2 separate regions of the Homo sapiens genome follow, and region 1 is linked to region 2. The links come from fine-mapping of genetic effects on gene expression. Tissue or cell type: unexposed skin. Region 2 holds a variant in brackets; the other region holds the start of a gene. All regions are shown on one strand. Distances are between the middles of the regions.

Region 1 (5,377 bases), 30 kb before region 2:
AAATCCAAGGCTACAGTTAGCAATATAGGAAGTGTCTTTTGAGTCTGCTGTCTTGGTAGTTACACCATTGTCTTGGTTCAAGTATTCCTTCTTTCAATGACAGACCCTTAATTAGTTTTGTGCTTTCATTTCTCCCTCTCCAGGTACCTCTAAATGATCTCCTGAAAATCCCAGTCCACCATTTGACTCCGTGGCTTACAAATCTCCAGTGCTTCTCCATTACCTAATAAGGAAAAAATCAATTTCATTAGTATGTTTGAGAAGGTTATTTCTGAACCCTGCTTAGCCTAAGAGAGTCATCTGCTGCACCTTCTCCTCATCACTTGGATAGCAGCACTGAGATACCAGCTGTTCTCTAAACACGCCATGCTTTTTCATAGGGTTCTCCTTGCTTAGGATGTTTATTCTCTTTCTAGCCCCGCTTTGATCTCTAAAGATCCTTCAGGACCCTTATGAAATGTGACTACTCTAGGAAGGTTTTCCTGAGATTTCTAGGCAGAATAGTTCATTTTTCTATGCTCCAAAAATTGTGTGTTCATGCATTAATGCACTTCTCATAGAAAGTTCTATATATTTTTTAAGTATCTTGTTTCTTCTGTATTATGAGTTTCAAGAAGGAATGGACAGAGTTTGCCTCTCAAATACCAGGACTTGGTTTGTCATAGGCACTCAAAAATGTTGATTTTTGAATAGCTTCTTTCCAAGGCTCCCCATTCCTGCTTACAGAAATGTTACCATCTAAGGCCCACCTCAAACACAGTTTCCCCTGTACCCCATTTTCTCCCACCTGGAGTGCTTTTTTTTTTTCATCCCAAAGACCTACAGGAATTTCCTTTGTTCTCTGATTTGGAATTTTAAAAAATATATTTAAACAAGGTATTTAAAAAAATCTGTCTCCTTGTCTGCAAGTTGATTGAAGTGGAATCTGTGTCTTCTCTATCCAGAGATGCCTGTATTCCCTGAATCAGTATCTTATACCCAGCAGATTCTCTGAAGGATATTTGCTGAATGGAGGAGTTAAGCCAAGGAAAGATAATCCTTAGTGCAACTTCTGAAAAGATACAGGTGACAATACCACTAGCTCCAAAACATTCTGCATAATGTCTGCTTTATTTCACTGCAGTTTATGAGTGCTCCAATTCTAAGGGAGATTATACAGCTGTCAAATACAAATTATCAGTAATTCACACAGTAGAAAGGATAGATTCAATCAGGTTTCTTTCCTCTTTAAACTTGCTTAATGTTGATGAGATATTGACAATGATCAACACATTACATTTTTAGTTCTATGGATTTCCAGTAAATTCTCTAAGCTTTTCTATGTATACAATCATAAGCTCTGTAATGAATTATAATTTGGTATCTTATTTTCAATATTTAAAACTCATATTTCTAAACTCACATTTCATTTTCGATAATTTATTATTTTTAGTTAATTACATAATAGCTCATAATTCCTTGCTTTGTCTTTTATTTTAATGGTGTAGAAGTTATAATTTCCGTGTCTTCAAGCCCCCTTCTCCCCACAAAACACTTAGTTAATATGAGGATGGAGATGATGAAAAATTGGATTGAGGACCAGGTAGAAGGTAATTTAGGTAGTCATATGCTTTATTGTTTTGAAAGAAAGGAGGTGGAAAAGGGAAGGGGTGGGAGTGAGGGTATCAGAGAAGAATTGGGATGAGAGTAAAATGAATGGATTTTATCTTGGAATTCTTGGGGCAAGAGGATGAGTACTGGTACTGGGGACTGGAACAGTGGTTGAATAAGGAAGGTCAGATGATGTCAATGACTAATTTCACTTGTTTTGGAAATTTTCTTTCAGATACCTTTCTTCTTCCAGTTTGGCATTAGAAATCACAATGCAGATATATCATGGGGCAAAAAGACCTTTGTGGAGACTCTAACATTGCTTTTATAGAAAAAACATGACCACATCTTCATACACTCAATAAACACTGGGGGCACCGCCTGCTTTAAGTGCAAGCTGCATAAAATAAATTGATACACAAATGAATTTTTTATTGATAAGTGCAAAAAGATTACATTTAATGTTTAAAAAAGATTTAATAGAAACAATTTAAGAAAAGGGAGTAGTTGAAAGAAAATAGTAGGCTAAGAATTGAATATAGAAATAGATATGAAGAAAATTGGAAGAAAGTTACTTCAGGGTGAAAAACTGTTAAAAAAAAAAATGACTTAGATCACACACTTGGTGGTGACCAGAGACTGTTTGTCAATATTTTGGAGGAAAAAAATTTTACAGAAGGAGAAAATAAGTAATGCTGGAGAGTGGGAAGCTGAAAGGTATTGAAAGGAAAAGAGTATTTGGAAGTCACGAGATATCTCCCTGGGAAATAGAGTTGGCAAAATGGCTGATTTTAAAGAGGTTAACTATTCTCCCCAAATTTCTGACTGTGAACTAGCTTACTTTATATTTACCCACTTAGAAAGTGTTTCAACACTTAAAGACTTAGCAAGGAGACCACAAAGTATAAGACGTTACATACTTTTCCAAAAGAAACACGACTAACTGTAAACTGTCATCAAATACAAATGGAATGGGTTTTCTCTTTTGGGTTTTATTTTTTTATTTTTAATTTTTTGGTGGTTGTTTTCGTTTAACGGTTTCAAAAAATATGTAGAAGGGAAATATTTCATTTCCCTTGGACGCTCAACTGTATATATTTCAAGATTCTTAAAACCCCCACCTCAAACTGCAGGCTTAATTTTAATGTGTTCATTTTTTACAAGGTGTGTCAACGTTTTATCAATTTCTGAAAAGTGTCTATGGCCCCGAAAAGTTGAAATCCACGACATTATATCATCTCTGCGAGCCCTTTCCAGCTCTCAAGGTACAATAATTCCACGAATCTTTGTTCTTCAAACCAGGAGGTTTTCTGGAAACCTTCTTAAACAACCAGGACAGGACCCATGAGGGAAATCTTGGGGATGCTCTGAGCAGCGGACGGGGCTTGGGAAGCGCACCCCTGTACCCGGGCTGCCTCCGGCCCGCACCCCGCCGCTCCCCAAGTCGGCTCCGCACTCCGCACACAGGCGGCGGCGCTGGGGCCGCTCCAAGTGCGTTGAGAAGTGTAATCCCTCCGCTAAGTACTTGGCTCTCAGTCTCCAATCACTAGTGGGAGCTGGAGAGGGCAAGTGAAAAAAAAAAATTCCAGAGGCAGCCGAGGAGCGAGAGGGAAAAAAAAAAAAAAAAAAAAAAAAAGTCCCGCGGTGGCGGCGGCGGCGGCGGCGGAGCGGCCGCGGCGGCCAGAAGTTGACGGCGCAGCCGGGCGCGGGGCGCGGAGTCGGCGGGGCCTCGCGGGACGCCGGGCAGTGCGGAGACCGCGGCGCTGAGGACGCGGGAGCCGGGAGCGCAGCCGCGGGTAAGGCGCGCGCGGCGGGGCCCCGTCCCCTGCGGGTGGCCGAGTTCCCGAGCGCGCGGGAGGCGGCCGAGCCGGCGAGAGCCGGGCAGAGCGAGGGGCGGCGCGGGACGGGTAGCGGCTGGGTGCGGAGCTGGGCGGCGGTCGCCCTAGGCAGGACGGAGCGCGCGAGGGAGAGGGCGAGAGCGAGGGCGGGCTGCGCGGCCGTGGGGCGGTGGCGGCGGCGGGGAGGGGGTCAGGCGGTGGCCGCCTCGGCTTTGTGCGCGGGCGGCTCTGCCGGGACCCCGAGGCCTCGTGCCTGCGCAGGCGAGGAGTCGGGGCAGCGGCGGCGGCGGGCGGGACACGTGCTTCGGGCTGTAGGGACGCCCCAAGGCAGGGAGTCGGACCTGCGAGCGGAGGGATGGGGCGGGAGGGCGAGCTGAGGGCAGTCGCGGAATCCGGGAAATGGGAGGGAGCCCGGCGGGGCGGGGGCCCAGGGCCAGCCCAGGCGGGACCCGCAGGCACCCACCTGCCCCGGACGCCTCCCGAGACCCAGCCTTGCCGTGGGGGAAAGTGCGCAGCGGGCTGGTCCCGGCGCCTTGGACTGGGCTCCGTCTCTGCTTCAGTTGCCTGTCTCTTCTCCTCTCTCTCCTGCTTCTCTCTCTCTATGCCTCTCTCTCAAGTTCTGGGTCTTTCATTCTCTCCCTTTTCTTCCTTTCTCCCTTCCTCTCCTTATTGCTATCCTTTGCCTCTCCCCCCGGTCTCTCTTTCCTTCCGTGCGTCTGTCTCCCTCTCCCCACCGCCTGCTCTGGCTCTCCCAGTGTGTCCCTCCTCTGTCCCTTCATCCTCTTCCCTCTGTCACTTTCGCACAATCTTTTGGTCTCTCTCTCTCTCTCAAGAGGCTTTCGCTCCCGGTCTTCCTGGCTCCCCTGTCTCTTGCTCTCTGCGCCCATCTCTCTGCTCGTCCCTCTTTCTGTCCAGGCTCCGTGTTTCCGCCTGTGTTTGGCGGTGTTGGAGAAGAGCCTCTGGAAGTTGTCCGCTGTGGTGCGGGTCTTACTTCTTTAGAGCTGCACCCCTCCAGCTGGGTCCTGCTGTTTGTTCTGAATGGAAACGCTGCAGTTCCCTTGAGTTATTAGAAACTGCTCTTTTCTTAGCCACCTTTCCAGCAAGGTGAGGTCAGTGACTACGAGCGGCCACAAAGGTGCCAGTGAAAGACAACGGAGGAAGAGAGCCGTTTCACTACCTCCAACAGATAAAGAAAATGTGTTAATACCAAACTTACCTGCAGCAAAGCAGAGCCACCTGAGAAAAGGTTCTTGAGTTCTGCAAAGAAACATAAAAGGCTCCACTGGAAATGAGAGGGTTCAGCTAAAAAGTGTTTGCAAATAATTTGAAAAAGCACTTAATGGAAATCTCTTGCTGTGCTAAATTGATGCCAACGAATCTCTGTTTTCTTACATATATTTTTAGGATTCCAGTGACAACTCTCCTAATTATTGTTTTGGGCAAGTTATGGGAAATGTCCTGTGTCAACTGGGATGTTAGTATTTAAGAAAATATTCAGTCTTTGTACTTTATACCCCTTTACACTCTAGTGATCAAGAAGAATTATTTCTAGCTGTAAAGAAAATAGTAAAGGATTCGTCAGTAATTTTAAAACATGAGACATGCCGGTGATCAATAATGTTTTTGGAAAACTTTCATTATAAGGATGTTTTGAAGGATGTTACATCTTAGTGAAATATGTAAGTTATTACACACTTAGATCATTGTGCAATGCAAAAAAGTTTGTGTTATAAGCAGATCATAGTAGTGATGTCTTTTTATGGGAAACATAGCTGGGAAATTAATTGCTCTGATTTTCACTGTTTTCTTTAGTCATGCATAATGTACCTTTGTGTTTAGCAAAATATGGCCTAGAGCTACAAAACTTGATACAGTGTGTTATTTGTCCAATCTGAATTACCATTTAGAAAACCACCTTTTCCTTTTAGTTACATGATATAAGTTGATAT
Region 2 (5,377 bases):
GATTATTGTGAGATTAGCTTTTAATTTTATTTCCTATTGTCAATAAGAGACTTAGGAATCCAGGTATAGTAACCTAATGGAATGAGGTTGGGAGTGTAAGTAATTTTTCTGTTTTTTGGATGAACTTGTATAATATTAGGTTTTGTTCCTTGAAAGTTTGATAGAACTTTGTAAAATTATCTGAACTTACAAGATTACTTTTTAAACTACTTAGATTTCTTATTTGTTATGAGTTTTCAGGTCTCCTGTTTCTATTTGAATAGTTTTTCAAAATTATATTTACATTTTCTCTTTTGTGTAAACTTTTTAAAATTTTTTCTTTTTTTTGTTTGGTAGAGATGAGGTCTTGCTATGTGGCACAGACTAGTCTTATACTCCTGGCCTCAAGTGATCTTCCTGCCTTGGCCTCTCAAAGTGCTGGGATTACAGGTGTGAGCCACTGCACCCAGCCTAAATGTTAACATACATTGGCATAAAATTTATACTGGGCCCAGTTGATTTCTCTGCCCAGATTCATTTGGCTCCCTTCTCAAACCTCAGTTGCTTGTCCTACTTCCTTTTTAGAGTGGCCACAGTAGCAGCTCATGTCATTCTTGTGGTTGTAAAGCCCTGGCCATTTTCATTGTAACCTCATCTTTGATACCATACAGGTCATCTTAGCCTCCTCTTTGGTACAGCCTTCCTGTGACCTTTAGGGTAAGAGTCATAACAAATTCAAGGCATGATGTGCCGCATCTGGACCTACAAAGCCTCAAGCTTCACCAGCAGCTGCTTGGAGGGGTCAGGCCTCAAAATATTAATACAAGAAAGTTATGCTATGGAGCAAACACTGACCCATGAGTGGTGGGAGATAGAAAGGAGCTGAGACAAATGGTCTCCATTTAGCCTCTGTGGAGATATGCCTGTGACTTGTAGCTTACCGCGATTTCTTGCAAGGCCATAGCCAGTTTGTTAATGTACCACCTTATAGTTGTTTTCCTTCCTGTCCTGCCTCATTTCCCCTTTTCCCTTACTCTTCCTTCCCTGTGCTCACCAAAGAATTATTGACATGTAAACTTGGCCTCAAACTCTGATTTCTAAAGAATTCAGGCAAAACTAATTATAATCAGTGGTGCTCCTAGCACATATGTACTTAGGATGGGGTTAAATTAGATTGCTTCCCTCTTTGAAGGCTGTAAGGACTGCTAGTCGTCAGGGAGCTGACAATGACCTTGGCATGCAGTGGCATCACAATGACCACAGCTTTCAATGATGATAATTTTGCATAAGATATGGGTGAAAAGAAAGACATGTAGCTGTTGCATTTGATGGGCATGGGGGTGGGGCATGGATAACTGTAAGGATTTTGGTGTTTTGGCAGCATTAAAGACTTTAGAAAAGAAAAAGATGGGCCCCAGGTAGCTCACAGCCAGCTTAAGGCACACTGTGAAAGCCAGAGAACTGCTATAATTTCTTTAAGGGAGATCTCATTCCACATTCACAGAGAATATTATGTTGAAAATTAACCCCAAGATATAAGAGTGGCAAGGCTGCAGTATAAGACTGAAGGTACAGTTTTGACAGATCACCTGTCAAAGCCAGGGCTTTGATAGAGAAATAGTAGGATGCTGACACCTGGAAATGAGACCTCTGGGTATATGTGCTGAACAATATTGAATCCTTAATTTTTTCCAAGTCATTTTAGCCAGGAGAAAATAGCCCTACTTTCTCTGGATTCTATATAGTGACCTTTCCTGAAGTTAGTTCTATGTATGATTATGCTTATTCTCCTCAAGATCTGGCCACATCATCACTCACTACTTCTAGGCTGAATTGCTTAAGTAGCATCTTAGCATAGGCTAAGTGGGTAATTATGATCCCTGCTCTGTGAAGAATATAGTATATGTTAAAATAATATGCCATAATAATTCGGGTATTATGGAAACATTTGTAGAATAGATCTTGAGGACATGGGAAGATGAGAGGGCATGGAATATAAGGTTCTGCTGGATGAAGATGTATTATCATGCGGGTACTTACCCCTGTGTGATTTGGAATTACATGTTCTAGCAAGGGCATATGGAAATGTCAGAGCTTCTTTGGCATGTTATTGAGAAAGGGGTCAAAATTCATAGTGGGCAGAAATATTAGAAATATACTTTGTAAGACTTGAGAATTCACCACCTTTTTTTTTTTTTTTGAAGAGAGTCTCATTCTGTCACCCAAGCTAGAGTGTGGTGGCATGACCTTGGCTTACTGCAGCTTCAAACCCTTGGGCTCAAGTGACCTTTCCACCTCCCAAATAGCTAGGATTATGGGCATGTGCCACCACACTTAGCTAATTTTTATTTATTTATTTATTTATTTTTTTGAGACGGAGTCTCGCTCTGTTGCCCAGGCTGGAATGCAGTGGTGCGATCTCAGCTCACTGCAAGCTCCGCCTCCCGGATTCACACCATTCTCCTGCCTCAGCCTCCAAAGTAGCTGGGACTACAGGCACCCACCACCATGCCTGGTTAATTTTTTGTATTTTTTTTTTTAGTAGAGATGGGGCTTCAC[C/T]GTGTTAGCCAGGATAGTCTTGATCTCCTGACCTCGTGATCCACCCGCCTTTGCCTCCCAAAGTGCTGGGATTACAGGCGTGAGCCATCGTGCCCAGCCCACTTAGCTAATTTTTAATTTTTTTTGTAGAGGTAGGGTTATGCTGTGTTGCCTAGGCTGGTTTTGAACTCCTGGCCTCAAGTGATCCTCCTGCCTCAGTGTGCCTAAGTGCTGGGATTACAGGTGTGAGCCACTGCATCTGGCCGTAAACGTAACCACTTTTATTCCCCAGGACATTTTTTGTTTTACCAGGGCGACAAGGAATGAATTATTGACCCTATGGCTGAATGCCCAACCTGGGATCAATACCAAGCCCTTGATATGTAGGAGACCAGTTGCCGCCTAGTCTGATGGCAGATGGGTCATCTTGGAGGTCTTGGACCTTAAAAGACGTACTAAAGCATCCTTACCAGAATTGACATATACTCCACGTAGAGGTTTTTTATTCCCCTGCAGGCAGAGATCCTGCCAGTATCACCATGTGAATGTTCAGTCCATTGACTCAGGGCCTAATATGTTGATGGGGTTCAGGACAAGCTACTGAAACATGGCACCTTGGCTTATTAAATATTTTAAGCTAAAGGAATTTAAGAAATGGCATCTCCGGTTCTCCCCTGAAGCAGGTTATAAGGCCCTCATGTGACAGGTACCCTCCCTGTATCCAGAGGAAAGAAGTATTCTTATCTCTGAAGATTGGAAGGACAGTGAGAGGAGTCGAAGTGAACAGGCCTTGCTAAGTTTCGCCAGTTTATTACACTTAGCTCAGCCTCTTTGTCCTTTCATATATTTCCATAGCTCTTCATCAAATGAAACACAAAAACGCTCAGGTTTGACCACAAAAATGAAGGTTTAACCACGTCTTTGGTTCTTCATTTGCTTTAAGAATGGCTCCCATGTTATGTAAAACTTATATTAAATAAATCTGTATGCTTTTCTTTTGATAATCTTTTGTTACAGGGGCTCTAGGCGAGAACTTAGATGGGTAGAAAGAAAAGATATTTTTTCTTTCTTGCAATATCAATGTGGTAACCCACACAGTATTTCCTTTGACCAAGGGACCTATTTTATACTGGAACTCATGATCACAAGATTCACTGGAGTTAGTATGTTTCTAATACCCAGAAGCATTTGGATAGGAGGTTTGAGTGGCCTGTGGAATGGAATAAATATTCAGTAAAAGCAGCAACTTGTGGACAACTCCGTGGGGTTCAATGTGGTATATATGGGGCTGAGTTGGTAATAGAACAAGAGAATCTGAAAATCAAAGGGTGGAAGTTGGATTTACCTTCTGCCATCAGTTACAGTGACCCACTTGTAGATTTTGTGCTTCTTGTCCCTGCAGTCTTAAGCTCTCCCAGGTAAGAGGTCCTGATTCATGGAGGATGGGGTGAGGAACACTTTAGCCACAGGACACAGTAAGAATTCTCTTGACTGGAAGCTGCGACCACAATATATTCACTTTGAGCTTATGACAGTGCACCAGCAGGCATAAAGAAGCATTGGTAGACCAATGAACTGTGAACACCAGGAGGAGTTAAGGTTATTGCTACATACTGGGGACAGGGAGGAGTATCTCTGGCCCAGGGGATTCCCTGGGCTGTCTTCTGGTCTTTTGCTGCCTAGTGGCAACTGTGAATGGACATTTTGAACAGCCATAGCCTGACAAAAGCAAGGAAACTATAGGCCCAAGCCTTTTGGGAATAAAAGTCTGGGTCACCCCATAAGGCAAAAACCAGACCACCCAGAGCACTGGCTGTGGGTGAAGGGAATCTGACGTAGGAGGTGCAGGAGGGAGATGACAAACACAGATTTACAGGACCAGCTGCAAAAGGCACAAATCATACCTTGGTTTACTAAATCTCTTTCTAGGCAAGTGCAAGTGCAATTCTTCACAACCATGAAGAACTGGACTTGTACCTCTTCTCTTGGAGAAGAGATGAGGGCATCTTTTAGATCTGCCTTTCATAAGAGAGTGCAAATTAATCTGAGCGACAGAAGGAGAGGATTGCACCAGATCCAGTTTATCTGCCTCTCAAATCTTCTGCATCACGCCTGCCCAAGCCTGAGCAACTTGCTCTTCTTCCTCTTCGGCATGGCCCCAGGATATTCCCTGGCATAACTGTGATTGTCTGCTTGCTTCTGCCATCACCTCACCTTCTATCACATCTATCCCAGCCTCCCCTGAGGTGATGAAGGCCTGGCCTTTGCCCATTTGCTATCACTTGCACTGGGACAGGAGTTTCAGTAGCTCCAGTGCCCAGGTACCCCTGGATGGATTGGCTGTGTCTTAGAAGCTTTGCAGAGTGGCAGGAAGCACAACCTGGAAGTAAGAGGAGGTTAACACATGCATATTAAAGTCCAATTTTCGTTGCACATCACAATCCGATTGAGAAATGGTTCAGTGTTCTTGCATAGAACAAGAGAAGATGACACTTCAGCTCATGAGGCACCCACTTACCGAGTTTTTTCACCTTTACAATTTGCTTTAAACGCTGAACGACTGTGGAATGGTCAACGTTGAGTGCTTTGTCAACTTCTAGTATAGTTTTAAGAGGATCAGCTTCAATGATTGCTCTCAGTTGGTCATTGTCAACTTCCAGTGGTTTGGCCACTATGCTCCTCATCTTCAAGGTTCTCATCTCCTTTGAAAAGTGTCTTGAACCACCACTGCACTGTACGTTCATTAGCAGTTGCTGGGCTAAAGGCGTTGTTGATGTTGTGAGTTGTCTCCACTGCTTTATGACCCATTTGAACTTGAATAAAAAAATCACTTGAATTTACTTTTTGTCTAACATCATTT

Direction of the effects. Alleles are on the strand shown, and positions count from the first base shown. SD is a standard deviation of normalised expression in the study named.
For the expression in unexposed skin of the gene that starts at base 3,273 in region 1, allele T in region 2 goes with a higher level than allele C (small effect, 0.34 SD a copy in GTEx).

What was found. PIP is the estimated chance that this variant, and not a neighbour inherited with it, causes the effect.
Region 1: BMPR1B starts here. The variant in region 2 is fine-mapped to the expression of BMPR1B in unexposed skin (GTEx, PIP 0.98).

The regions. Positions count from the first base shown.
Region 1 is chr4:94,754,683-94,760,059 of GRCh38, forward strand. BMPR1B (bone morphogenetic protein receptor type 1B) reads left to right here and starts at 3,273. Exons shown (of 13, transcript NM_001203.3): 1 at 3,273-3,386. BMPR1B-DT (BMPR1B divergent transcript) reads right to left here and starts at 2,851. Exons shown (of 3, transcript NR_121610.1): 1 at 2,712-2,851; 2 at 148-223.
Region 2 is chr4:94,784,207-94,789,583 of GRCh38, forward strand. All of the region lies in intron 1 of BMPR1B (bone morphogenetic protein receptor type 1B), which reads left to right. Among named protein-coding and RNA genes, the nearest start is that of BMPR1B, 29 kb to the left of the region's middle. The variant C/T (reference allele first, on the strand shown) is at 2,539.